Linked DNA regions of Homo sapiens: region 2 is linked to region 1. Evidence: fine-mapped expression QTL. A gene starts in region 1. The other region holds a variant in brackets. All regions are shown on one strand. Distances are between the middles of the regions. Region 1 holds the start of BTNL9 (butyrophilin like 9). Region 2 overlaps BTNL9 (butyrophilin like 9).

Evidence for each region. PIP is the estimated chance that this variant, and not a neighbour inherited with it, causes the effect.
Region 2: its variant is fine-mapped to the expression of BTNL9 in whole blood (TOPMed, PIP above 0.99).

Annotation. Positions count from the first base shown.
Region 1 is chr5:181,033,253-181,045,768 of GRCh38, reverse strand. It overlaps BTNL9 (butyrophilin like 9), which reads right to left and starts at 5,503. Exons shown (of 11, transcript NM_152547.5): 1 at 5,337-5,503; 2 at 171-302. The coding sequence starts at 279. MIR8089 (microRNA 8089) reads left to right here and starts at 2,285; the gene lies at 2,285-2,366. RefSeq lists an enhancer at 8,060-8,986 and a silencer at 9,231-9,609.
Region 2 is chr5:181,058,013-181,072,250 of GRCh38, reverse strand. BTNL9 (butyrophilin like 9) reads right to left here. Exons shown (of 11, transcript NM_152547.5): 10 at 13,873-13,899; 11 at 10,730-13,014. The coding sequence ends at 12,389. It also overlaps the pseudogene RPL13P10. Among named protein-coding and RNA genes, the nearest start is that of MIR8089, 22 kb to the right of the region's middle. The variant G/A (reference allele first, on the strand shown) is at 8,823.

The sequences.
Region 1 (12,516 bases):
CAGGCTGGGTAATGCTCGGGGTAGTGGCTCTTTAACAACCAGGATGGAAGTCTTTTTTGTATTTTAGCGTCTGGCACGCCCTGGTACTGTGCTAAGATCGTAGCCCTGGGGAGCACCTGGCAGGAGGGGTGGCGTTCACATCCTGGCCAGCTAGGCTGCAGACACAATACCTGAGCTCGGCTCCCCAGGCTGAAGGAGGAGGAGGTGCATGAGGAAGACAAGACTGCTGGTCAGCGATACTGGCTTCAAGGAGTCTGGGGAGACTGAGAGGTCCACCATCTCTCGTCAGCAGTGGGGGCCACCTGGAGAGGGACAAAGGGGTGCTGGAGCGACGTGCAAAGGTAGGGGGAGCTGGAACTCACTCCATCAGACCTGAAGTCTGTTGTGGCCTCAGTTATTTTTGTCTAGTTCTCAAATTCCTTACAAGCCTCAGCGCTTGGCTTCTTCCATGGCCAGAGGGGAGAGCTGCTTCTAATTTTCCCAGGGGACACTGTTAATGGCATCCGTGGCCTTGCCCAGGTTCACAGAGCTGCAAGGGGACGAGGCTGAAGGATCCCAGAGGAAGCAGCTTCTGTGCTGCTTATTGTTTAGAGCCAGGAATAGAGCCACACAATGTGTGGGGGCTCAGCGCCCCCCCTTTTCTGGGCTTAGCGACTTTCCTCAAACAAAGGGCAATCTCTGAAGATCTCAGATGCATTTTCATTCTTCCTGCCTCACCACCACCAACCCAACCTTCGTCCCACTTCCCTTTGGTCTGGAACATCGAGTCCGCAAAACAGAGGAACAAACACAGAGTTCTGCTCTCTCAGAAGTGGAGTGCATGCAGGTGGCTGCCTGCCAGCCCCAACGACATCCTAGGACACTCTCCTCCAGGCCTGGGACCTCAAGTTGTGCCTTCAGGAGGCCAGCTGGTAACTGTCTCTGTGTCGATAGCATCTTCGGGGCTACAGTGATGGAGTCATCCCATCTAGCCACCCCTTCCTCATCTATGACCCAGGAGGCCCAGACCTGGCCCAGACAAGGGCTACCCCCTCACTCCTGATGCTCTGCTCCCTTGGGACCCACTAATGACTCACGGCCAGAGAGTGTGCTGCTGCCAATGAGTCTCTGGAGATACACAAAACTCTCCATATTTCTCTTGCATTTAGTTCTGCAAGATTTTAGGCAGATTCTGTCATTGGCTGGACCGAAATCTCTGCCTGAACCATGGAAGAAACCAATGCCCACTCCCATGGGTTGCTAGGAGCTCTTGAAATCAAAGTCAGCACCTCCCTTCCCCCTGCCTTCCCAACGCCCACGCACTGTCTTCGTCCTGGGACTGCACCCCTTGCCTTTCACTTCATCACAGTGCCCTTGTTGGAAGGCCACGGTGGGCTCCTCTCTCCAACCCTCTCTGTCTCCCCGTCGGCCCCCACGGCTTGGCTTTTCTTCCGAGACCTTGGCATGGCAGGTGTTTCCGGTGTCCTGTGGCCACAGGGCACTGGCCACACTGTCAGCAACACCATCAGCAGGTGTGAAGGAAGGACTTTCAAAGCTGCTGGGCCATGCAGAGGCAGAAGGATCAGAGGAGGTGTGCAGGGTGAGTTAATGAGGTGGTAGAGGCTCCCCAGGGACCCTTAGGCTAGGAGGCACCCAGACAGGCAGGAATACAAGGGAAGAGGGGTGGCCTGTGAGGCGCATGGGCTGATGGCCCTGTCTCCTAGAGCTAAAATTGAGGGGACAAACAGAGGACAGGTTGGGACAGCTCCAGGTGTGTTTCAAGAAGGTTCAAGGACAGGAGGTGGGGTCCCCCCGAAGCGGGGCCGTGTTGACACCTCTCAGTTATTGGAACACGATTCACACAATAACCAGCATGGGCAGAGGCCTCGGGCAGGGTCCAGGCCCTGGCTGGACAGTCCAGACTCTCACCCTCTGTGGCTACTGGTGGAAGCCTCTCTGCGACAGGTGGGGAAGCTGGCAAGGAAGGGTTCCAGCAAAGGGGTCTACACTGGTTGTGCACCTTCTCACCCTCTCTTCTGTTCCCTTCTCTTTTCCTTTATACTTCAGTCTTTTCTTCTGGATTCTAGACACAGGTTAGAGCTCCATGACAGCAAAACCAGGAGGGGCACGTCAGTGTTCAGCTAGTAACTTCCAAAACCAAGAGGGGCTCAGGGTGTGTTTATGCATCCATTCAGATGGGTTGGGTTCTGGGGAATTAGTCGAGGTTGTGTTAGGTTGTGACACAGGTCTGCTCATAAGGTGGTAATGGGGCGCGAGACAGGTCCCACAGCTGGCCTTCTCACAGAAGGAGCACTCACTCCAATTTCCCTGGACTGGGGGCAGGCTGCCACCTCCTGGGGACAGGGGATTGGGGCAGGATGTTCCAGAACCGTGGAAGTGCTAGAGGGACCTCAGTTCTCTGTTGTGATACACCCGTGTGATTCCCATCATGGAATCTTCAGGGGAGGAGGATTGTAGACACACACACACACACACAGACACACACACATGCACACACACACAGACACACCCATGCACACACACACAGACACACACATAGACACACACACAGATGCACACACACAGACACATACACACACACACACGTGCTGACAGTAATAAAACTAACATGCATTGGGTACTTCCTATCTATCAAACACTTATCTATACCTCAGTATTATTATTTTTATTATTATTATTACTAATAGGTCCAAATTATAGATAAGGAAACGGAGGCCCAGGAGCTGAGTGACTTGCTCCTGCACACAGTGGGTGAGTGGTGGGGTGGGGTTCCACCCACTGTCTGGTTCCAGAGCCTCGCTCTGCACTTCTCGAATTCAGATTCCTCACCAGCTACGTCGTGTGTCTGGGTACACCCTTCCGTCACTCCTGTTACCCAAAACCATGACCGTCTCAGGAACCAGCTGGCCACAGACCAAACACTCACCCTAACCTGCCATCACACAGAGGCACTGAAGAAGCGACCGGCTCACACGGTGCCAGCCACAAAACCAGCCAACCAGCCAACTAATGAATACAAAATTTAAAATCCCGCTGCCAGATAAAACAACTTAAAGCTGAGGTCTCCCTAAGACTTTGTCAAGAGCATCTTCTGAGCCAGGAGGAACAGGTACCTGGTCCCTTTGCTCCCAACACTCAAGGGTATCATCTTGAAAGCCTTTAGCAGAGAGAGATGGTCTGGCAGCTTCCTGAAGGGAAAAGTCAGCGGCTCCTGGACAGCACCCTCCTCCCCGTTTGCTGCTGTGCGTCCGCCCTTTCTGACCTCACTCTTCAGTTAAGGATCCAGGGTGCTCAATCCTTACTTGAAGCGTAAGTCCCCTCCTCGAAGGAAACACTTTCCACCCTCTGCTATTTTGATTACAGTGTAAATTGATTTCAGGTTGTTCCTGGTGAGGAGGTTTTGCCTGGGGAAGGAGTAAGGGACTGGACGCGTCGGATATTTGGGGAAGAAGGAAAACCCAGTGTGCGCAAGGACCACAAAGGGGTCCTCCAGCTGGAGCTGAGCTCTGCCGGCGGGCACGTGCTGCTTGTCCTCCCAGGAGCCTTGGGCTGCTCCCTCCGGAAGGCACAGGGAGAAATAAGGGGTCCTGAGAAATGTCACTGCCTGCACCCAGCAAAAGCCCATTTCTTTCTTCTCCTTCTCTTTTTATTTTTCTTTTCTTCTTGCTCTCTCATTGCCCCCAGCCCGCCCCACTCCTGTTCTCTCCTCCTGCACCTGCAATTCCTAAACAACCCTGATGTTTTTCTGATTTCCGGTCCCTCCGTCGAGTCTGTCTTTAAAGATGAGTACTTTTTGCTTTGCTACTGTTATTTTTTTAGATAATTTATTGTTAAATAAAGAATTTTAAAGCAAAATGCAGTGGGACAGATGTCAAAGGCAAGTTGAAAACATAATTTCTGTCAAATACTATTCTGGATTTCCTAAGGTTAGGCACAAGAAAAGCATCAAATGAAAAGGTACTTACTCAAACTAAGTCTTTTTAAAAAGTCTGTATTTGAAAGGAAAACAACTTTTCACTAAAAATATAAATCATTCTTATTACAGGAAAACCATAATTTAAGAGACTGAGAAAAGTTTTTGATTCACAAATAAATGGCATCTCCCTAATACACTTAGGACTGTTTGTTTTTAATCAGTGACTCTTAAAAATCACTGCTTCCACCTGACAAACTCAGGCGAATCACTATGGATTGGTGTCCTCTGAGCCACCCTGAAGCATCCCATTTTCTCTACACATGTCCTTTTCTCCAACTTTCAGCAAAGCAAGAATGGAGAAAAAGAGGATTAGAAGGAACTTCAGTTGGTTCCCTGGTGAATAACTTAACAAAATAAAACCTGCTTTTCCATTTGTATTACACATTCACAATCTCTCACTCTTACTTACTCTATTGGTGAATTTCAGATTCTGTCCACACATATAATTATTTGCCTGAACTTAACACTATCTTCCTGACAAATAGTAAATCTCCCAAGGACATCTCCGAACCTGGCAGTGTCCACAGGCCACGTCCTCCCACAGGAGTCCCTCGCCTGCTATGCAGCTGTTGGCGTCCTGAGCGATCCCAGTGTTTCCATGGGGGCAGAGCAAAACCTTGGGGATTCTCTAACATAATTTTAAGACTACATTTCACACTTAAATGACCACGTTATGAAACCTGGCAGGAAAATCCATGTTATTAATAAATGCCATGTCTCTTGCTCTCCCAAACACAGGAAGTATTTTTTGCTCTGCATATGTCTGCGGAGACTGTGGGGTCCCAGAGTGGAAAACTTCTCTAGTAACAAAGTACAGAAATTATCCCTGAAGTATAGTCTTTGCTTTGCTACTTCTGTAAGCTGTGTAACTGGTGAATTTTGCCTGTCTCCTGTCCTCCACTCCCCAAGCTGCAAGTCCGCAGGTGTCAGTGGGGCCTTGGCCCTCTCCCACGGGCCTCCCCGACACCCCCTGCAATGCCCTTCCCCCCGGCAGACCCCAGCTAGTGCTCACTGCCTGCGCTGGTTTGATTTCGATAGGTCCACAAGAGGATTTCCACCCTCTTAGTCTCTAAGGAAGATGGACTGCCCCAAGAAGGGAACCGCAATGAGGCTTGAAATCTTTTTCGTCTGGTGGGGGCAATGGGATGTATCAGGATCCTGCCTCCTGAGATGCGGCCCACCTAAACGGGCGTGGACATCTCCTCTTGGCCACACTCGAAACATCCCATGCTGCGGCCAAGCTCGGATAATAAAATGGTGCCACTAATTGTACGCCTTCCCAAAGCCTCCCACCTTCATTTTCTGATTGCCGTTTCTGAAAGATGGAGGTGTAGGCAGCTGTTGAGAATGAGCCACTTACCTGGCAGGTAGCAGCAAAAGGTCTGAAATGGCAGATGAGTCCTGGTGAGCTCACCTCCTCTGCAAAGGGTGATGATTGCTGTAAAGTGTCTTGGTCCCAGATGCTAAGATTCCCTAGACGTGGACTGGCAGCTGAGCTCCAGAGGCCAGGGCACGTGTGACAGAATTATTTATCCATCTTCCACCCTAAGATATATGCCGTTTGCTCTGCCCTTGGCTATGGAAACCAAGATGGATAGAACAAAACAAGGAAGTCGTCACATCCTGTCTCTGAGAAAAATCTTGAATTCCCATGTAAAATATCTCTCCAGGGTCACAGAAGGAGGGGAAAGGTATCTGAGAGCTTTGTAGAGAGCGACAGCTGCAGAGGCTCAAAGTGAGGAGAAAACGCTCCAGCTGGGTTCAGGGTCTTTGTGCCAGTGAAGCTCGGACTCCAAGGAGGCAGGGTAGCAGTCCCCGAACAGTGAAAGAGAGTAGACTGCAGTCTCCACTAACTAACCACGAGGAAGGGGCTGATGACCAATTTTTAACCCACCATAACCTTCTCCTCAGGACAAGGTCAGTAAGGAACAAATCCTGGGGGCATTGTCGTGAGGCAACCTGCAAAACCTGTTCACGTGCAACTTAGAAATGCAGGAGGGTGCTGGATTGGGATTTCTCTAGTGGAGAAGAGGTCAGAAAAGAAGCAGCAAGCACTACCCCAGCCCAGCCCACCCCATCTTACTGTAGGCCATGGTGCAACTTGGGCATTAGCGGACTGAGGCACCAGCCACCCAGCTGCAGCCCACACTGACGTCCCCTCCAGGGAACAGGCCAGAGCTGAGGCACGAGCAGCTCAAGCACATGCAGTGTTGTGGGAAACTGAGGACCGGAGAGACCGATGTGAAGAACAGGAGGATTGTTTATTTTAGGTACACACCGGCTCAGTGGACTCACATCCAAAAAGCTGAGCATTAAACAAAGACAGAGCGGGGTTTTTGTAAGTGGACTTACAATAAATAAAACAAAAGCAGCTAATCATGATAGGTCACATAATCTATAGCATAGCATAACTTGTGGCCTTGCACAGCGGGTGACTTTGTAGCTGCATTGAAAGAAAAACAAGAACTGGCTAAGTACAGACATTTGTAAAACACAATCATGCTTAAGAAGCCTGGGAAAACAGTAACAGTAAAAGAATTTGTCTTTCTCTCTTTTTCCTTCAACCTTGCTCTGGAAGTGGGGCGGCGGGTATCTGGAGCCCATTCCTTTGGCCTTGGCTTTCTGGACACTGTTATAACTGTCCTTGCAGTGGGCTTGCTATAGGCAGAGGAAAACTTGTCCTTTACTTTTTAACCCTTGCCTTGCCTGTTACTTTTCTTGGAGTGAATGAAGGCATATGTATTTTTAAATTTTCTGCCTCAGTAGCACACCCCAGGGACTCCCAGAAGTGCCTGTGTTTGTAGAGGGGCCTCTGCAGGTGACAGGGCGCTACATGGGTGGGAGACGGGAGCCAGCAAGCTTCAGGCATGGACCTGGAGGTGACTGTCTGTGCTCAGACAGGCTGGTGAGACTGGGCACCCAGGCTTATTAATGTGAACAGATGTCCCTAGGACAGCAAAAGGGGCTGAACAGTGAGCTCAAACAGTGGGTGCAGTTCCCCGGGCCTGGGGAGACAGAGGAGGGCTCAAGGACAGGGTATACTTAAGATGGATGCTGCATAAACAGTAGGATCAGGGAAGCCATGGGCAGCCCGGGAGGACAGAGCCTGCGAGGACAGACATTCTTCGTGGAGGGAGGTGATTAGCATGTGGGAGGTAGGAAAAGGCTAGGGGTTAGCCAGACCAGTGTGTGGCTCACTAGTGGAAGGGAAGGTTGAACAGAAGTGGATGGGACCACATTGCAGAGGCCCTTGCATGCCACATAGGGAAGTGAAAGAGAAGGAAAATTGCACTTGTAGAGAGGGGCTGCTCGAAAACGAGAACATGGCCTAAACTTTTCATTGCCCTTAGGTTGGATTCCTCCATGCTGCCTGGGGAGAGGTGAGATTGTCACAGCAGAAATGCAAAGAGAGAGAGAAATGGGCAGAGTCCACTTCTGTGGCTCCTAGACACAGCCCTGGTGGGATGTGGGAGGGGGACCCCACCTGCCACCACCGCCTGCATATCAGGCGCATCATGCAGTAGGAAAGATGTAGACAGCGGCTGTCCCTGCCAGCCGAACCTCCCATTCCAAGACCCAGTAAATGCATAAAGGCTCAGATCCAAAATGAAGGTAGGTGCTGAACCCCTGGCGGACTATAGGTGCCACTGGAGAGAATGGACCCTCATCTGTCCTTGTGTGGGATTTTTGGGTGTCAATTTTCTTCCCAGAAACCTCTGTGGCACCTGAGTTCTTGTCCTGCCTCCAGGAAGAATGAGGTCATGAGGTACACAGACAAGTGAAGGGTGAAGAAGATGCAGAGAAGCTTTATTGAATGCTAGAACAGCTCAGAGGTGATCTGCAGTGAGCTCCTCTCTGTAGGTAAGTCCTCCCCTCCCACTGAGTGTTCAGCTCTCAGCAGAGAAGGCCCTTGAGAGGGTAGCTCCTCTCTGCCCACTGGTCCTCCTGCCACCTGCTGCTCTCAGCAGACAGAAGTCCCTGGAGAGAGTGGCTCCTCTCCACAGGCAAGTTGTTCTGAACACCTCTGCAGGTCTCTGAAGCTCTCAGCAGAGAGGGTAGCTCCTCTCTGCAGCTGGCCATCCCATCGTTTCTCCATCCTCTGCCCTGCTCTGGCTGAGCCTCAGGCTTTTATGCACCTCAGAGGGGAGGAAGTGCATGCTGATTGGTCCATGGGCAGCCAGAGGGAGACACCACAAGTCCCCACTCCAGTCAGAGGGACTGGCAGCCAGGCCTTCAGGCCCTCCCTGGCCTGAAGGCGGGGCCTTACTGGGGACCCGCCTTCTCCCTCCAGGGACTCTGTCTGCCTCCCACTGCCATTTATGGTCCCTGGCTAGGCCCCAACCCCGCTCTGAGAGTGGGAGCAGAGAGAGGCCAGGCAGTGGGAAGCAGACAGCCCTGAGCCTGCAGGGATGGGGGTTGGGGGGCTGGGTACAGGGTGGTTCTTCCCAGGCCCTGGAGGTGCAGAATGCACAGATGCCGGGGTCCTGCTCCTGGGAGGGTGGCCGAAGCTGCACCCGGGGAGCTCCTGCCCCATCAATTCGGAAGGGGCAGGGCTCCTGCTTGTCCTGGCTCCTGCCTCCTCCGTGGAGCAGGAGGCTGAGGTCTGCAGCTGTGGGTTGGGTGGCTGCAGCTGCACGCAGAAGGGCAGATCCTGCCTGCCCCTGGCTCCCACCCAGGAGCTCAGGGAGGCTTGGATCCACAGCTGCAGTTTGGGTGGCTGTAGACCCACACAGGAGGGTTGGGATCCTGCCTGATCTGTACAGCAGGAGGCCTGGGTCTGCAGTCACAGTTTGGGTGACTGCAGCGGTACCCGGGGAGCTCCCGCCCCATCTCAGAAGGGGCAGAGCTCTTACTGGCTCCGTGAAGTATGCAGCCCCAGCCAGGCCTCCCTGCTGCAGCCCCTGTGATGGCAGCGGCCATCACGTGGAGGGAGGTGATTGGCACGTGTGGGGTAGGAAAGGCTAGGGGCTAGCCAGGCCAGCATGGAGCCATCACTTGGACAGCGGAGAACATGCCCCATTATATAGCTTCCGTGGTGCACAGCAGCCCTCACCATGAGGTCGTCTGAGGGAATTCTGGAGGGGCTAATGGGAGAATCCTCATCCCCAGGGCAAAGGCTATTCTCACGCCCAGCGTGGGCTACCAGTGGAGATAGAAGCAAAGTCATGCCAGCCTCGCAAGTAGTGAATTCCTCCTTTTCTGACGATCCCCCATCCACCTTCCCCGGCAGCCCACAACATGGCCCTTGAGCTTCCTTACTGCATTTTCATTTTCTCCTGTTCCGTTCTCCAGGGAGCTCACACTGACATTCTTGTGCCTGTCAGCTGGCACAGTGCCCCCCATTGTGCTTTGTCACACAGATAGAGACGTGCACAGGCACTGGGAGATAGGAGAGGCCCACTGCTGCCCTCACAGCCACAGGTGCTCATCTTTGGCTCCTGAGATTGTGGGGGCTGCAGGAGCCACACACACCCTCTACTCCCAAACAGCCTGACCTCGCCAAGGCAAGCCATTTTCGAGGGTGACTTGAGTGGTGCTGCCCAAAGGGATCAGCACGGAGCATCCCTAGCTCGGAGGAATTCCTTCACTGCAAGAAGTAGCCAGCACCTTCTCCTGACACACAGAAGTGGGTAGAATAAGGAGCTCCAGCTGCGGGCTTACGCCAGGTAGAGTGAGCATTGGTTATGGAGGAGACCCCGTGAGAACAGCGCTCATCTGAGTCCCGACCATTGGTTATGGAGGAGACCCTGTGAAAACAGTGCTCATCTGAGTCCCGACCATTTGTAGGAGGGAAGTGGGTTGGTGCCCTTATATTACACCTTTTCAGAGAGCCAGCCAAAACGCAGTTTGACAGGGTTTGAGTTGCATAAACAGGTGGTAATAATAATAATAATAAACTAGGGGGAGCTGAGCGTGGTGGCTCACGCCTGTAATCACAGCACTTTGAGAAGCTGAAACAAGGGTCTTGTTTGTGTCCAGGAGTTCGAGAGCCCAGAAGTTCTAGACCAGCCTGGGCAACACAGTGAAACCTTGTCTCCATTACAAATTAAAAACAAATAACCAGGTCGTTTCTTAAAGAGGGTGCTCTTGGTTATTCAAACCTGCTGTCCCCGGCAGACGGTGGGTTCTCCTGTTTCATCCACACTCTCTCCAGGCACCTTTAGGGAACAAATAATACTGTTTGCTTTAACAGGAGGAGAACTTTTGAAGAAAAAAATTATGTTAAATTTCCAAATAAGGCAAAAAGGTAGGTAACATGTCCTTTCAGTGTCATGTGGGCACTGGCCCAGCCACAGATTACTTATGGAAGTGTACTTTGATTACTGTTTGCCATTACTTAAAAACCCCAGATTTAGTGAATTTGCATAATTAACTTGTAGACTTTTGCCCAGTAGAGTTGCAAATAATTTTTTTCTTTTTTGAGACAGGGCCTTGCTCTGTCACCCAGGCTGGAGTACAGTGGCACAGTCACAGCTCACTGCAGCCTCAACCTCCCAGGCTCAAGTGATCCTCCCACCTCAGCCTCCCATGTCACTGGGACCACAGGTGACCAGCTAATTTTTTAATTTTTTCTTTATAGAGATGAGGTTCTCATTATGTTGCCCAGACCGGTCTCATACTCCTGGGCTCAAGCAATCCTCCCCCTTCAGCCTCCCAAAGTGCTGGGATTATATACACGAGCCACTGCATGCATCCAGATAATTTCTATCCAGTAGAAAAATACAACCCAAAAGGTTATGGTGTATCGCCTTCTAAGAGATTATCCAGTTCTGTAGATAAGGCAGCAGTCTTACCACAACGTTTCTGTATTAAACTGCCTCTAAATATCTAATTCCTTTTTTTAAAAAATAATTCCTGAAGTGCTTCCTGAACTAGTCTTTACCACGTCATTGGTTACCTCAAATTAAGGGACTGAATAAAATCTATTACACATGATCATTTTATAATTGAATGAGTCATGTTTTAAAAGTTTTTTGAAAATTGTACTTTGACAAGTTGTCAGCCTAGAAACAGCTTTTCTTACAAGTCCTCTGACCCTGGTCTTAATGAGCAGTGCCTGTCAGGACCCATCGGCCTGGCCTCACCAGGACTGTGTGCTCCCTGCGTCCCAATACACCCCCAGCAGAGCCAGGATCAAATAAGATCATATGGAAAATATTGTCAACTGGGCTTCAAACAGTGCCTTCCTTCTAAATACTAGAGGTCCTTTAATGCAAGAAATGTTTAAAAGAGTACTTTTTAAAGTATTTAAAAGAGTACTGTTATTATTTTATTACTTTCTAAAATGTTAGATTTGGGGATTAGGAGTTATCATTTGGCTTTTTTTTTTGAGACGGAGTCTTGCTCTGTCGCCCAGGCTGGAGTGCAGTGGCGTGATCTGGGCTCACTGCAAGATCTGCCTCCTGGGTTCACGCCCTTCTCCTGCCTCAGCCTCCCGAGTAGATGGGACTACAGGTACCCGCCACCATGCCCGGCTAATTTTCTGTATTTTTTTTTAGTAGAGATGGGGTTTCACCGTGTTAGCCAAGATGGTCTCCATCCCCTGACCTGGTGATCCACCTGCCTCGGCCTCCCAGTGTGCTGGGATTACAGGCGTGAGCCACCGCACCTGGCCTTGGCTTTTTTTTAAAGAGACAGGATTTCACTCTGCCAACTAGGCTGTACGTAATGCAGTCCAGTGATCCTAGCTCTCCGCAGCACTCTCCGAACTCCTGGGCTCAGGTGCTCCTTCTGCCTCAGCCTCCCCAGTGGCTGGGACTACAGGTGTGCACCACCACGCTGTGAGAGTCAGGGCTGCGAGTCATCAACACTGACTTACTGGGTCCTTACTATTTACACTTCCTCCAGGGTTACAGCTACATTTTTGAACAAATACCTTTCAACTAAGGAACTTTTACAAAACTTCAGAAGGGAAAAAATTATACTACTCATTAACAATTGTGGAAATAAAATACTTGAAACATTTCAAGCAAAATGAGCCTGTAACAAAATAAAGTGATGAGACATATAACACGTGAACCGGTGGTGAACAAAACCACCAAAACGAGTGAACAGAAAGTGGTGATATAAACAGATAACTTAAAGATAACGAAGTACCTGACAAACACAAGACAGAAGCCATGCAATTATTTCTCTGGTAAAACAAGACCTGGAAAGATAGGGAAAAGATGCAGAACGGAACATGGTTAGGAGATTGTTGCTTTTTACTACAGTGCTTTTTGTCAAATTTTACTCTTTAAACGTGAGCATGCATTACTTTCATAGGAATAAGTTTCCAGTAATTCAATGAGACTTTTTAGTCCTAGCCAATCTAGGATGTCAAGTCAGGTTTTAGGTGAGTAACTCAGCTAGGTTTTTGTTGGCTGTACGGTGTCCAGAATTCGTGGGTTCCTGGTCTCGCTGACTTCAAGAATGAAGCTGCAGACCCTCGCGCTGAGTGTTACAGTTCTTAAAGATGCTGTGTCTGGAGTTGTTCGTTCCTTCCGGTGGATTCGTAGTCTTGTTAGCCTTAGGAAGTGAAGCTGTAGACCTTCAAAGTG
Region 2 (14,238 bases), 26 kb before region 1:
CCTGGCCTCCAGTGATCCTCCCACCTCAGCCTCCCAAAGTGTTGGGATTATGGCATGAGCCACTGTACCCAGCTTTGTATCAGTTATTAGATGGTAGAAACTAGAGGCTTAATTCTGGAAAGCATATCTTGACAGTAGTTTAAATGTGAAAAAGTATTTTTAGAAACAAATTTTGGCTGATGTGAACACAGATTCATTGTAGTATCTGATGTTGTCACAGTCTTCAAGAGAATAAAAAACAACCATTCACCATCCTTGATATGTGTTGAAACGCATGCTGCTGTGTGTGCAAATGAAGCCACTTTTATACTTGTATTATTTTGCATCAACTGTCTATTTTGAATTTAAATAATCATGCTTTGATTCTTCATAAGTTTTTACTTTATGGAATTGTTTGCACTGACCATAAAATATAAATAAAAGAAATAAATGTGAAATAAAAAAGTGGTCCAAAGAGGAGGTCATTTCTTTGGGAGGGGTTGGGGGTGGGAAGTAGGCTGGAGAGGGAGTCACCATGGCCCTGGGCATGGTGCTCCTGGAAAGAGGTGATTCCCTGCCCTCCATGGGGATGGAGTTAGGAGTACTTGCCACTCCCCAAGCAGCCCCTAAAAGAATCACATGGAACTTTGGGGGATGTCTGCAAGAAGAGGAGCTTGGTATCTTGTTCTGATGGGCTGGACGACCTGCCCAGAGGAAAAGAAAACTGGGAGATGAAGACCTTAGAGAGAGCCCGCTTAACCCTCCCCAGTGCCAGCCTGTGTTTCCCTTGGGTCAGATTACCTGGGAAGCGAGCCATGTCGAGCTATCTGGCTGCCTCCTTCCCAGGCCGTCTGCCGGGTGGGGAGTGCATGGGAATGTCCTGACACAAATGGCATGGAAAAGAGGCTGGGGGTTCAGCCAAAGCACAGCTGAGGGAGCTGAGGAATAAGGAGGACTTGGGGAGGGTGTAGCCACCTCATTTCCTTTTTAATTGCAAAGCAATACATGCTCCCTGTAAAAATTTATGTGTATCATAAAATTTACAGTGCCATAGTACCCCATAGTATGAATAAACTATATCTGTTCCCCTGGTAGCAGGTAGATGGTTTTCGACCTCTGCGTACATACTGACGCATTGAATATCTTATGTCTTTAGGTGCTAATGCAAATATTTCTGTAGAACAGATTCCTGGGAGTGGAATTGTTGGGTCAAAGAATGTTCACATTTATAAATTGGTAGATAATACCAAAATTGACCTCTAAGAAGCTGCACCAATTTATAAGCCCACCAAAAATGTGCAGGAATGCCCAATTCTTGGGGAATCGTTGTCTTCCCATTGAGATTCCCTGGCGAGCTGGGGATAACTTGATGCCCGCTTGGCTGAGGAGGTCTTTCCCCCACTCTGCTGATGGCAGTGGCTGCTGCCAGTATGCCGGCTACAGCAGGGAGGCACGGCTGGAGCTGCACGCTCCAGGGAGCTGGTGGGAGCCCTGTCCCTTCTGAGTTGGGACTGGAGCTCCAGGCGCCCAAACTGCAGACGCAGACCCAGGCCTCCTGTTGTACGGAGCAGGCGGGAGGGCCGGGGCCATAGCAGCCCAAACTGCACCTGTGGATCCGAGCCCCCTCTGTGCTCTTGGGGGAGGGCTGGGAGCAGACAGGGTCTGCCTTCAGGGGTGTGGCTGCGTCTGCCCTCCTAGGCGCTGCAGCTGCCTTCTTACCTGCAGGACCCGGGCATCTCTGCAGCCTGCACCCTCGGGGGCCCCAGAAAGGACCCCTCCCTTCCCCCACTTCTGTCCCTGTAGGCTCTGGGGCGTCTGCTCCCACTACCTGGCTTTTCTCCACTCCTGGCAACTGCTCCGATCTTGGATCGGATTTGGGGCCGAGCCCTGGGGGCCTTGAATGACCACAGGAGGCAGACGGAGTCCTTGGCGGAAGGGGGAAGGTCCCCAGTAAAGGTCCCTCTTTCAGGTCAGGGCGGGCCTTGAAGGCTGGGCTGCCAGTCCTGCGGACCTGAGTGGAGACTCGTGGTGCCTCTTCTGGACCCGCCCATGGCCACGCATGGGCCAATCGGCATGCACTTCCTCCCCGCCTGAGGCCTATAAAAGTCCCGGGACCAGGCGGACTCGGCAGGAGAACGACCAGCCAGAGAGGACGGCGGAGAGGCTGCTGGACAGACCAATAGCTGGAAAGAGAAGGGTACTCGCTCCACTGCGAGATGCAGGGACTTGCCGGCAGAGAGGAGCTACTGTCTTTGCTTAGAGCTTCGGAGACCTGCAGAGATACCTGAATGACTTACCTGTGGAGAGGAGTTAACCTCTGCAGGACCTCTTTTCTGCTGAGAGCTGAGCACTCCACGGGTAGCCAGCCTGCAGTGAGCAGCTACCCACTCCTCGGAGCTGCTCTAACACTAAATAAAACTCTTTTTCACACTTCACTTGTCATGATGTCCGTGGGATATCTTTTTACTTGTGTCTTCAATTTATTTCCTTAATGTATTAGAGTTGTCAGTGTGCAGATACTTCGTTTTTCTGGGTTAAGTTTATTTTTAAGTATTTAAATTTTTTTGATGCTATTGAAAGTGGTGTTTTCTTGATTTCTTTTGCAGATAGTTTGTTAAATATATGGAAATGCTTATTGCTTTTTGTATGTTGGTTTTTTTTATCCTGCAACGTTATGGAATTCATTGGTTTTAACTTTTTTTAATTAGCGTTTTTAAGGTTGTCTACATATAAAATAATGCTTTCTGCAAATAGGGATAATTTAGTTTTTCTTTGCTACCTCAAATGTTTTTCTTTTTCTTTTCTGATTGCTCTTGCTATTACTGTCAGTTGTGTGTTGAAGTGGTGAGAGGGGGGCATCTTTGCTTTGCACTCGATCTTAGAGTAAAATATTTCAGTATTTCCTCATTATGGTACTAGCTGTGGGCTTTTCATGAATGACCTTTCTGTATTTAGGAAGTTTTCTTCTGTACCAATTTTGTTGAGAGCTTTTTTGAAGAAAACATGAATGTTAAATTTTGTCAAATAGTTTTTATGCATCAACGGAGATAGCCATGTGGTTTTTATCGTTCATTTTGTTAATGTGGGGTATCATATGCATTGCTTTGTCCATCCCAGGGATAATTCCCACTTGTTCATATGATGTTTATGATGTGTTGTCGAGTTTGGTTTTGCTAGTATTTATTGAGAATTGGTGCATCTATGTTCATTGGAGATATTGGCCTGTAGTTTTTTTAATAGTGTTTTTGTCTGGCTTTGGTATTAGAGTAATGCTGGTCTCATGAAGTCAGTTTGGAAATTCTATTTCCATTTCAATTTTTTGGAAGATCTTCAGAGATACTGGTATTCTCTTTAACTGTTGTAGAATTCATCAGTGAAGCCATCAGTTTTTAAGCTTGTCTTTGGTGGGAGACTTTTTATTTTATCTCCTTACTTATACTTTTTACATTTTCTTTCTTCCTTTCTTCCTTTCCTTCCTCTCATTCCTTCCTTTCCTTATTTCCTTTCTTTCTTTCTGAGACAGAGTCTTGCTCTGTTGCCCAAGCTGGAGTGCAGTGGCACAATCTTGGCTATGCAACCTCTGCCTCCCAGGTTCAAGCAATTCTCATTCCTTGGCCTCTCGAGAAGCTGGGATTAGGGCATATGCCCTGAAACCGGCTAATTTTTGTATTTTTAGTAGAGATGAGGTTTTGCCATGTTGGTCAGGCTGGTCTTGAACTTCTGGCCTCAAGTGATCCGCTCACCTTGGCCTTCCAAAGTTGCTGGAATTACAGGCGTGAGCCACCATGCCCAGCCTGTATTTTCTATTTCTTAATGATTCATACTTGGTATATTATATGTTGCTAGGAATTTATCCATTTCTTCTAGATTATCTGATTGGTTGCTGTTCATAGTAGCTTTTTATGATCTTTTTTTTACTTCTGTGGTATCAATTGTAATGTTTCCTCTTTCATTTCTGGTTTTATTTGAGTCTTCTGTCTTTTTTTATAGTTTAGGGAAAGGTTTGTGAATTTTGCTTATCTTTTCAAAAAATCCAGTTCTCAATTGTGTATTGATTTTTTTCTGCTGTTTTCTAGTCTCAATTTCACTTATTTCTGCACTGATCTTTATTGTTTCTTTTATTCTGCTCACTTGGGGTTTTAGTTTGTTCTTTCCCTAGTTGCTTGAGATGTAAAGTTAGGTTGCTTCTTGTGATTTTTCCATTTTCATATTGTGTTATATTTTCATTTTTATTTGTCCCAAGATATTTTTTGTTTTCTCTGTGATTTCTTCTTTGGCTCATTGTTATTCAGGAGCAGGTTGTTTAATTTCCACATATTTGTGCATTTTGCAAGATTTCTCCTGTTGTTATTTTCTAGTTTCATACCATTGTGATTAGAACAGACACTTGATATAATTTCAGTCTTCTTATGTTGTGCTGTAACATAGAATCTATCCTGCACAATGTTCCATGTGCTCCAGAAAAGCATGTGTATTCTGTTGCTGTTGGATGAAATGTTCTGTATACATCTATGAGGTCTACTTGGTTTGAAGGCCAATGTTTCCTTTTTGATTTTCTGTCTGGATGTTCTATTCCTTGTTGAAAGTGAAATATTGGCCAGGCTCATGCTGGCGGTTCACACCTGTAATCCCAATACTTTGGGAAGTCTAGGAGGGAGGATTGCTTGAGGCCAGGAGTTCAAGTTGACCAGCCTGCACAACATACTAGACCCTGTCTCTACCAAAAAAAAAAAAAAAAAAAAAATTGCCAGGCATGGTGGTGGCACACGCCTGTAGTCCTAGCTACTTAGGAGGCTGGAGGCAGGAGGATTGCTTGAGCTCAGGAATTCAAGGTTACAGTGAGCTATGATTGTGTGACTTCACTCCAGCCCAGGCAACAGAGCAAAACCCTGTTTCTAAACAAAAAGTAAAAAAAAAAGTATTAAAGTCATCTCCTACAATTGCATTTTAGTTTATCTCTCCCTTTAAATTATTTTAAATTTGCTTTATATATTTAGGTGCTCTAGTTTTGGGCGCATATATATTTATAATTGTTATATCCTCTTAATATTGAAATATTATTACATAATGACTTTCTTAATCTCTTTTTACAATTTTTGACCTAAAGACTATTTTGTCTGATACAAGTATAGCTAACCCTGCTATCTTTGTGTATCCATGCACATGGAATATCTTTTTGCAAGTTGTATTTTTGTCTATTACTTTACTGCCCTATCAATTCTTTATTTTTAAAGTGAGTTGTCTGTCAATCTCTTCTTTTTAATAGAAGTGTTTATTCTGTTTGTAGTCATTATAGCTATCTCTCTGGTAAGATTTAAATCTAACATTTGCTTTTTGTTTTCTACGTATCTGTACCCTTTTCAAAAAACACAATTCCTCCTATTTGCATCCTATTGGACTAATCAAAATTGTTTGGTATTTTATTTTATCACCTCTATTGATTTTTTCAGTATAAATCTTCATCTTTTGGCATTTTATTTTATTGTTTTTTTCTTAACTTTAGAATTCACACTATGCAGTCTCCATATACTTCAGTCTACCTGGATTTGTTGTAACAATTTACAGATGACATAGAAAATTGAAAATGTTACATATCTTTTTGTGGAAAGGTCCCACTTTCAGGCCAGGGAGGGCCTTGAAGGCTGGGCTGCCAGTCCTGCGGACCTGAGTGGGGACTCGTGGTGCCTCTTCTGGACCCGCCTATGGCCACCCATGGACCAATCGGCATGCACTTCCTCCCCTCTAAGGCCTATAAAAGTCCCGAGACCAGCCAGAGCAGGCCAGAGAAGGACCACAAAACAAAGAGGGCAGAGAGACGACTGTACAGACGACCAGCTGGAGAGAGAATAGTACTCTCTCCACTGAAAGCTTCAGAGACCTGCCGGCAGAGAGGACGTATTTTCTCTGCTATGAGAGCTTCAGAGACCTGTAGAGACATCCAAATGACTTGCCTGTGGAGAGGAGCTACCCTCTTCAGGGCCTCCTTTCTGCCGAGGACTGAACACTCCATGGGCAACCAGCCTACAGTGAGGAGCTACTCACTCCTCTGAGCTGTTGGAACACTAAATAAAACTCTTCTTCACCCCTCACTTGTCTGTGTATGATACAGGAAAAGAACAAGAATTTGGGCAAAGTGCCACAGCCACAGAGGTTTCCAGGAGATACACCAGCAAAATCAACACCCCAGAGATCCCATAACACTACCACCAAAGAGCTTCCCATCCTCAGGCGCCCTCAAGCAGCAGAAGCCTCCCAACCAGGTTCAGCACTGGTGTATTCTGTACACTGGACGGAGATACACACGAAAGTGCTGCAATCACCCTTTTCCTACTTTTGAGGGTTAGCTGCATGGAAAATGTGAACGATAGGGAGAAGGACATCCACCATGTGCTATTTGTATACACTTGCATGGGGCCGCTTGCAGGAGGGAAACGTGGGTTTTTACTCTGCATGCTCCAGCCTTCTGGGCAGCCTCTCCCGGGGCCTTCATGGTTCACAAAATGTATACCTGAATGTCTCAGGTCTCTCTCAGTTTAAGGCTGGGTATTGGACCCTCCCACCCCCTTTTTTTTTTAAGTCCCCGGAGGGTATTTATTTTCTCTTTTCAACATCCTGTTCTGCAGCTTGCATCAGCTCTCCATATGCCGAAGAGCCAGGTGTTGGCACAGGCCATGTGGAGACTAGCAAAGGCTTTGGGGCAAAGGCTTTGAAGTTCTCCTCCTCGGTGATGATTTAGGCTTTCTCCTTCCTGTAGACATACCTGATGGGCATAACGGGTCTGGTCAATCTGGTGGCCAATTTCAGTTCTGCTGAACTGTCTCTCTTCTTGGGGGCCAAGGGCTTCCTGGGGAGAGGATGAGTTTGGTCCCATGCACCTTTAGGTGCCGTGCATTGGCCTGCGGGACTCAGTGGACTTGTTCTGTCATCTTGGCTCCACAGAGATGCCAATGGTTTGGCCCAGCTTCTTGTGAATGCCAGCTACCCTTAGCTCCTCCAAGCTGCAGACCCTGCCTACTTTGGTATGATGCCTTACCACGAGACACCTTACTATGGGCTGGATGGGCCCAGGAACGGGGGTCGGGGTGACGGGATCTTTGGCTGGCTGGTTGAGCCACATGGTTGTGTGCCGCTGTCAGCCCTTGTGAGAGAGGGGTTTGAACTTAATGCCACTCCAGCTGGGGCCCCTGGCTGCCTACAGCCCTCCTGCACTGGAAAACAGCCTGCCCATCATTTAAAGTGGGCTGATGGTGTCCACTGATTATTTAAACACAGTTTAGCATTGTTTTTTATATTAGCTGTATGTTTGCTTTTCTTATTTATCACATAAATACAGTCTTAAAGGAATAATAGCTACAGATGGAGAGGGAACATATTTTTAATGTTATCACAAAAACATTCATGAGTAAGAACCCTAAATATTCTCACACTAATGCAAATGACTCTAGAAAAAAAAACTTCCATTTTCTGAATATCATGTGTTAATTAAGGGGAATAGCTTTCTCCCAACAGGTGACCAAGAATATTTTCATAAGCTTAAAATGCACTTATCTGACTTGATGGAGAAACAAATTACAATCTCCCTCTAGAATTGCACAAACAATGGTCTCTGGAGCTGGCATCTCATGAGAGCTGATCATGGGTGTCTCTTCCTGCTATGGTCTGAATGTGTCCCTCTCCACCATGCCCCACTCACATGTTGAAATCGTAACACCCAATGCAATGTAGTAGGAGGTGGGACTTTTGGGAGGTGCTTAGGTCATGAGGGTGGAGTCCTTATGATGGGATTAATGCACTTGTAAAAACAGACCTGTTAGAGGCTGGGTGGCTCACGCCTTTAATGCCAGTCCTTTGGGAGGCCGAGGAGGACAGATCATGAGGTCAAGAGATCGAGACCACCCTGGCCAACATGGTGAAACCCTGTCTCTACTAAAAATACAAAAATTAGCTGGGTGTGGTGGTGCATGCCCGCAGTCCCAGCTACTCTGGAGGCTGAGGCAGGAGAATCACTTGAACCCAGGAGGTGGAGGTTGCTGTGAGCTGAGATCGCGCCACTGCACTCCAGCCTGGCGACAGAGTGAGACTGTCTCAAAAACAAAAAACAAACAAAAAAAACAGAAACAGACCCTGGTAGGGGCTGGATGAGGTAACTTATGCCTGTAATCTCAGCAGTTTGGGAGGCTGAGGTAGGTGGGTCACTTGAGGCCAGGAGTTCCAGACCAGCCTGGGCAACATAGCAAGACCCTGTCTCAATTTAAAAGACAAAAATATAAACGGACCCTGGAGAACTCTCTTGCTGTCTGCCATGTGAGGATACAAAGCAAAGCAGCAGTTTGCAACCCAGAAGAGAACCCTCGCCAACCCTGACCGTGCTGGGACCCTGATCCTGGACTTGCAGCCTCCAAAACTGTGAGAAATAAATTTCTGTTGTTTACAAGCCACTCCGTGTATGGTATTTTGTTACAGCAGCGAGAGCTGACTAAGGCACTTCTTCCGTGTGTGGTATTTTGTTACAGCAGCGAGAGCTGACTAAGGCACTTCCTCCATGTGTGGCATCTTGTTACAGCAGCGAGAGCTGACTAAGGCACTTCCCCCGTGTGTGGCATCTTGTTACAGCAGCGAGAGCTGACTAAGGCACTTCCCAGTCTGCCCTCAGTGGTGTCACATCTTTAGCTTGAAATCAACCATAGTGGGAGGACTTGCACCAGGGAAATTGGCTCAATATTTTTTTTTTCAGAAAGCCAGTTTTTTTTTTTTTTTTTTTTTTTTTTGAGACAGAGTCTCACTCTGTCGCCCAGGCTGGAGTGCAGTGGTGCAATCTCGGCTCACTGCAAGCTCCGCCTCCC[G/A]GGTTCACGCCATTCTCCTGCCTCAGCCTCCCGAGTAGCTGAGACTACAGGCACCCGCCACCGCGCCCAGCTGATTTTTTATATTTTTAGTAGAGACGGGGTTTCACCGTGTTAGCCAGGATGGTCTTGATCTCCTGACCTTGTGATCCACCGCCTCGGCCTCCCAAAGTGCTGGGATTGCAGGCATGAGCCACCGCGCCCAGCCTAGAAAGCCAGTTATTAAACATTTATCAGACACCACTGCATTTCTTTATCATTCTCTCTCTCTTTTGTTTATATTACTATATGTCTTAATGAACCATTTGAAAATAAGGTATAAACATCATAATCCTTTACCCCTTAATATGTAAGTGTGCATTTTCTTAAAAGCATTCTTCTACATCAAAATGAGGAAATTAACATTTATCCAATATTATTATCTAATCCACACACCTCTTTCAAAATGCCCTTTTTTCCCCCAATAATCTCCCCCCGCCGGACTCGAGCAATCATTCCACCTTAGCCTCCGAAAGTGCTGGGATTACAGGCCTGAGCCAATTTGTCTGGCCCAGTGATGTTTTTTATAGATCCAGGATCCCATCCAGGGTCACCTGTTGCACTTAGTTGTCCTGTTTCCTTTAGTCTGAAGCAGTTCCTTAGTGTTGTCCCGTCTTTCATGACCTTGACATTGTTGAAGAGTACCAGTCAGTTTCTGTGATGTTTCCTCCTGATTTATGCATTTTTGGGTGCAGGAATACCTCAAAAGTGATGCCGTTTGTATTCTGCATTGTATCAGGAAGAATGTGATGTAAACTGTTTTCGCATCTGGTGATGTTAACTTTTGTCATTTGGCTAAGGTGGCGCCTGCCAGCCTCCTCCACTGTAAAGTTAATTGGTACGTGTTTTGTACTTATGAGTTAAGAAGTAATATTTTCAGACTCCTATTGTAGGGCAGAGCTTTCTCTTCTCTCCATGAATTTGTTTATGTATGTATGTATGTATGTATGTATATCAGTGGGGAAATATACATATGGATTCCTATTTGATTCAGGGGTTCAAAATCCATTCTGACGTCTAAATCCATTCGACATGGCTCTTCTGTGCAACCTACTTCCTTATTTTCTGGTGTAGGATATTGTAGGCTCTCCTTGTATTTTCCCTGCCCCAGCCTTGGACTCAACCATTTCTCCAAGGAGACTTTATTCCTTTTACTGAAAATCGTACTAAAAACTAAGTTCTGGGTCTCGGTGTGCCCGTTGGTACTGGGGTGTTATTGTTGCTAAGCCTTCAAACAAGACAGAGCTGGGAACGATCTGCATGCACCCACACATATCTGTGTATCTGTCCACGTGTGTGCGTGCATTCCATCTCTCTACATGCAGTAAAACCCACGCATTCACATTGATACATCTCATTCCAGTCCACCTCAGAGTCACCCTCATCCTCTCCTTTCCCCTTTCCGTATTTCGTATTTCCCTTCACTGACAGCGAAACCCGACTCTCAGCGCACTTAGTGAATTCCCGACTCTCAGCGCCACTTAGTGAATTTTTTTATTTGTGCCACCTCCCTCTGGTACGTAACCGAACTCCCGGGCCTGTGGGGCGAAAGCTCATCCCAGAGGTGTCCCTGCCCCATCCGTTCCCATCCTGGTGCTAAAGGCCCTAGTAGAAATCTCAGTCCCCATGAAGAGGAAAAGAAAAGGAGAGGGAAAGAGGGAAGAAGGAGGAAAGACCAGTTAGAAAGCTTGGCTGCGGACCAGTCTCCCTTCCTCATTCCCCCTTTCAAACAAGACGGGCAAGGAAAGCTCTGCCTGGATTAAGGGGAAGGGGATGAGAGCCATATTTACTTACTCTGAAACAATGGCCTAGGAGATCGTCCAGCAGTTTCATTATAGCTCCTTTCAAATGAATGATTTTGAATATGAGTATTTAAAAAAAGTGTTTTCCCCTTTATTACAGAACTGATACATATACATTATTGAACATTAAAAAATACAAAGAAGACATTTTAAGAATGCAATTACCAAACATTTTCCCATCCAAAGATAATCACTTAGTTTTTTGGTGTATCCTTCTCCCCGCCACCCAACTCTTAGTTTGCAAAATTTCAAACCCACAGCAAAGCCACATTGATAGTACAATGAACATCTGTCGACCAGTCACCTAGAGTCACCAAGTGTTGTCATTTTACTACATTTGACTTGTCTCTTTCTTTCTTTATATTCATATGTTTTATATTTTTCCACTTAGTCACTGGAAATTCAGTGGCAGACACTGTGGTAATTAATATCTAAAAACTTCAGTATGTTTGCTAAGAACAAGAATGTTCTCCTACATAGCCACAGTACAAATGTCTCACTCTGAAAATGAAGCCAGGCACAGCGGCTCATGCCTGTACACCCAGCATTTTGGGAGGCCCAGGTGGGAGGATTGCTTGAGCGCAGGAGTTTGAGACCAGCCTGGGTAACAAAGTGAGACCCCCGTCTCTATAACGCACTTAAAATTGGGCATGGTGTTGTGTGCTGAGGTGGGAGGATCACTTGGACCCAGGAGGTTGAGGCTGCACTCCAGCCTGGCCGACAGAGACAATGTCTTGGGGGTAGGGGGTGAAGAACACTTCTTTCCCCAGTTGTCAAACTAATAATGTCCTTGGTCCCATCATTGATGATGTTAAATTTAATCACTTGGATGATCTGGTAGATGTCTCCATTGTAAAGGTAACCTTTCCCCTTTCAAACTTATAAGTAGTGTATAAGGTTACTGCTTTGAGACTGGAAACAGCCTGTTCTCCAAGACTCTCACCAATAATTAGATTTCACCTCCAAAAGAAACCTTCCTGTTTCTCCTTTTTAAAAAGAAATTTGAGTATCAGCATGAACTCATGGATTATGTTTTTATTCAGTGTGTTATAATCTCTCCTGTCATTATTCATCCTGATGTTCAAATTGTCCCACAATTGGTCAGTGAGGCCCCTTCGGCCTGGCTCCCTACCCTTTTGCCGGGTTGCCGTCACGTTTTGAGCCTTTATTTTACTTCACCACACACAATGCTCCAGGCTCACCTTGAAATTTTTGCCCCGGCTCCAGAAGCAGCTGTTCCTCCAACTTCATTTTAATGGGAAATGGTTTTTAAAACTAGGATCTGAGCCTTACTTAGGTGAACTCGTTGCTTACGAAGTGTTATTGCATCTCGACCTTTTTAGAGCTAGCAAACATATACAAAAAATATAAAACTATACAAATTAACTGATCCCTCTAAGGCAGTCACCAAAGTTTTCTCCCTTCTTTCTTCCATGCTGGCTTCTTGCCCACCGCCCACCGTGAGCACCCCAGCTCTGAGCGACGTGGATATATTTGTACTCCTTCGCTCAGTCCCACAATCCACAAACGAGCTTTGGACTTGTCTCCTTTCCTTGAAGAAAATCGCACTACACATACACATCTACGTAGGCAAAGGTCCCTCTCTTTGTCCCCCTCGCTGACATTTTGGCTGGTGCACCTGCTCCCTTCAGACGGAGCAGGAGAGCAAAGCGCTGGCCTGGGATCCAGGGGGCCCCCCGGGGCCAGTCCCGCGGCCACGAGGGCGCCTCACCACCAGTCCAGGGCGGGGTCCGCGGGCTCATAGGGCTGTAGCCAGGTGTCACTGTCGTTCTCTTCGGGGACGCCCGTCCCTCTAACCGGCAGCGGGCAGATGGTCAGGGGATCCGGATGTTCGCCGCCGTCGTGGGCCCTGGGCCTGAAGTACGCACAGAGCGCGCCCGAGAAGGTGTCGTGGAAGGTGAAGATGTGGGAGCCGTCGGACACGTTGAAGAAGGACAGCTCTCCGGCCTCGTAGTCCAGGAAGACGCCCAGGCGCCGCGGGGGCACGCGCAGGGTGAGCGCGACGCGGTGCGGGGCCAGGACGAAGTACTCGCAGCCGTTCCACAGCCCCAGCACCCAGTAGCCGGCCGCAGGGCTCAGGCGCGCAGGCCCCGCGCGCGGCACCGCGGCCAGGCAGGCGCCCAGGAACCAGCGGCTGCGGCGGCCCACGTGCACCTCCCAGTAGTGGCGGCCGGCGGAGAACCGCTCCAGGCTCAGCGCGCACGTCTGCTCCGAGAACCGCTGCGGGTGGCCAGGCGCCGGGCCTGGCGGCGCCCCGCGGGAAGACACGCTCTTGCCATCCTCCGACACCTCCAGGCTGGGGTGCGCCGAGGCCGGGTCCAGCGTCACATCCACTGCGCAGAGCCACAGCGTTAGTGCCCGCCCGGGACGGTCTGGGCCCCGTCCGTGTCTTCCCCAAGGCGGACAAACCTCTCGTTTCTCTTGGTGGAATAATCGAGGAAATGAACCCCTTACCCCGACCCTCACCCCTGCAAACCCCCTCCCCAGGACTGAAGTGGCATGTGTCAGTCACTCCTGAGTGTTTGATAGTGACAAGGAATCCTGTCCTTTCCTGAACTGGAAGGTCCCTGAATTCCATACCAGAGATAGCAAAGGAAGTAGGCTGGCGGGGAGGGAGCCACGTCCCGGTCAAGGGGAAGGACCTATGGGCTGGTTCTAGTTCCTGCTGGTGGCACCACCCTGCGTGACCTTGGCATAATCAGGAGAGCGCTGAGCGTCATTTTACAGAAATTTTGGATTTTTTTTTTTTTTTTTTACATACAGTCCTTCAGAAAAGTTTTTAAAAGGATTTTAAAAGGACCTTTGAGATCATCTAGTCCAGTGCCCCACATTTCAACACCCCATGCCATCTGACAGATGGGAACCTAGGGGACCCCTTCGTCAGAGAATCTGGGAGGTTCATTACAGACTCTGCACTCTCGCCTGCAAATAGCCTCAAGCCAGATGGAAACAAACCTAGTGTAACCCCAAGGAGCGATGTGTTTGGGAGCTCACGTGTGCATGTGTGTGCATACACATGCAGGCATATGTGTCGTGTGGCGTGTTTGCAAGTGTGCGTGTGTGTCTTGTGTGTGCAGGCCCCATACTTGGCTCCTATAAAGCCCCGTCCTCTAATCTCAGATCTCTCCACCTCCCTTCTGTTTAAGATCCGGCCAAACCAAAACACAAATCAGTTTCCTGGCTTCAGTTACCTGCATATTTTTGGGCTGCTCTCCACTCTGAAACCAAACAGAAAAGGGGAAAAAAGCTCAGAAATCTCAGTCAGTAACTCTGGAACCTTAACGAAGTCTCCAGATGTATGAGGGATGCATGCAGATCGAATGACCCCATTCCCACTGTGACAACTGGTTTGAATCCAGACTGGTCTTGGGGTTCACCATGTATTTTCCTGAGAAATTTTAGATTGAGTAGAGGCCTGTGTCATTGATACCAGAGCTACGTGCAGGCTGAAATTCTGCTGGAAAAAGCAGGAGAGTGGAGCATGTAGGTAAAGAGACTCTATAAGCAGCCTGGATGCCCTGAGAGACAGAAGTGGAGCCTCAGCCTCTGACCCGCCA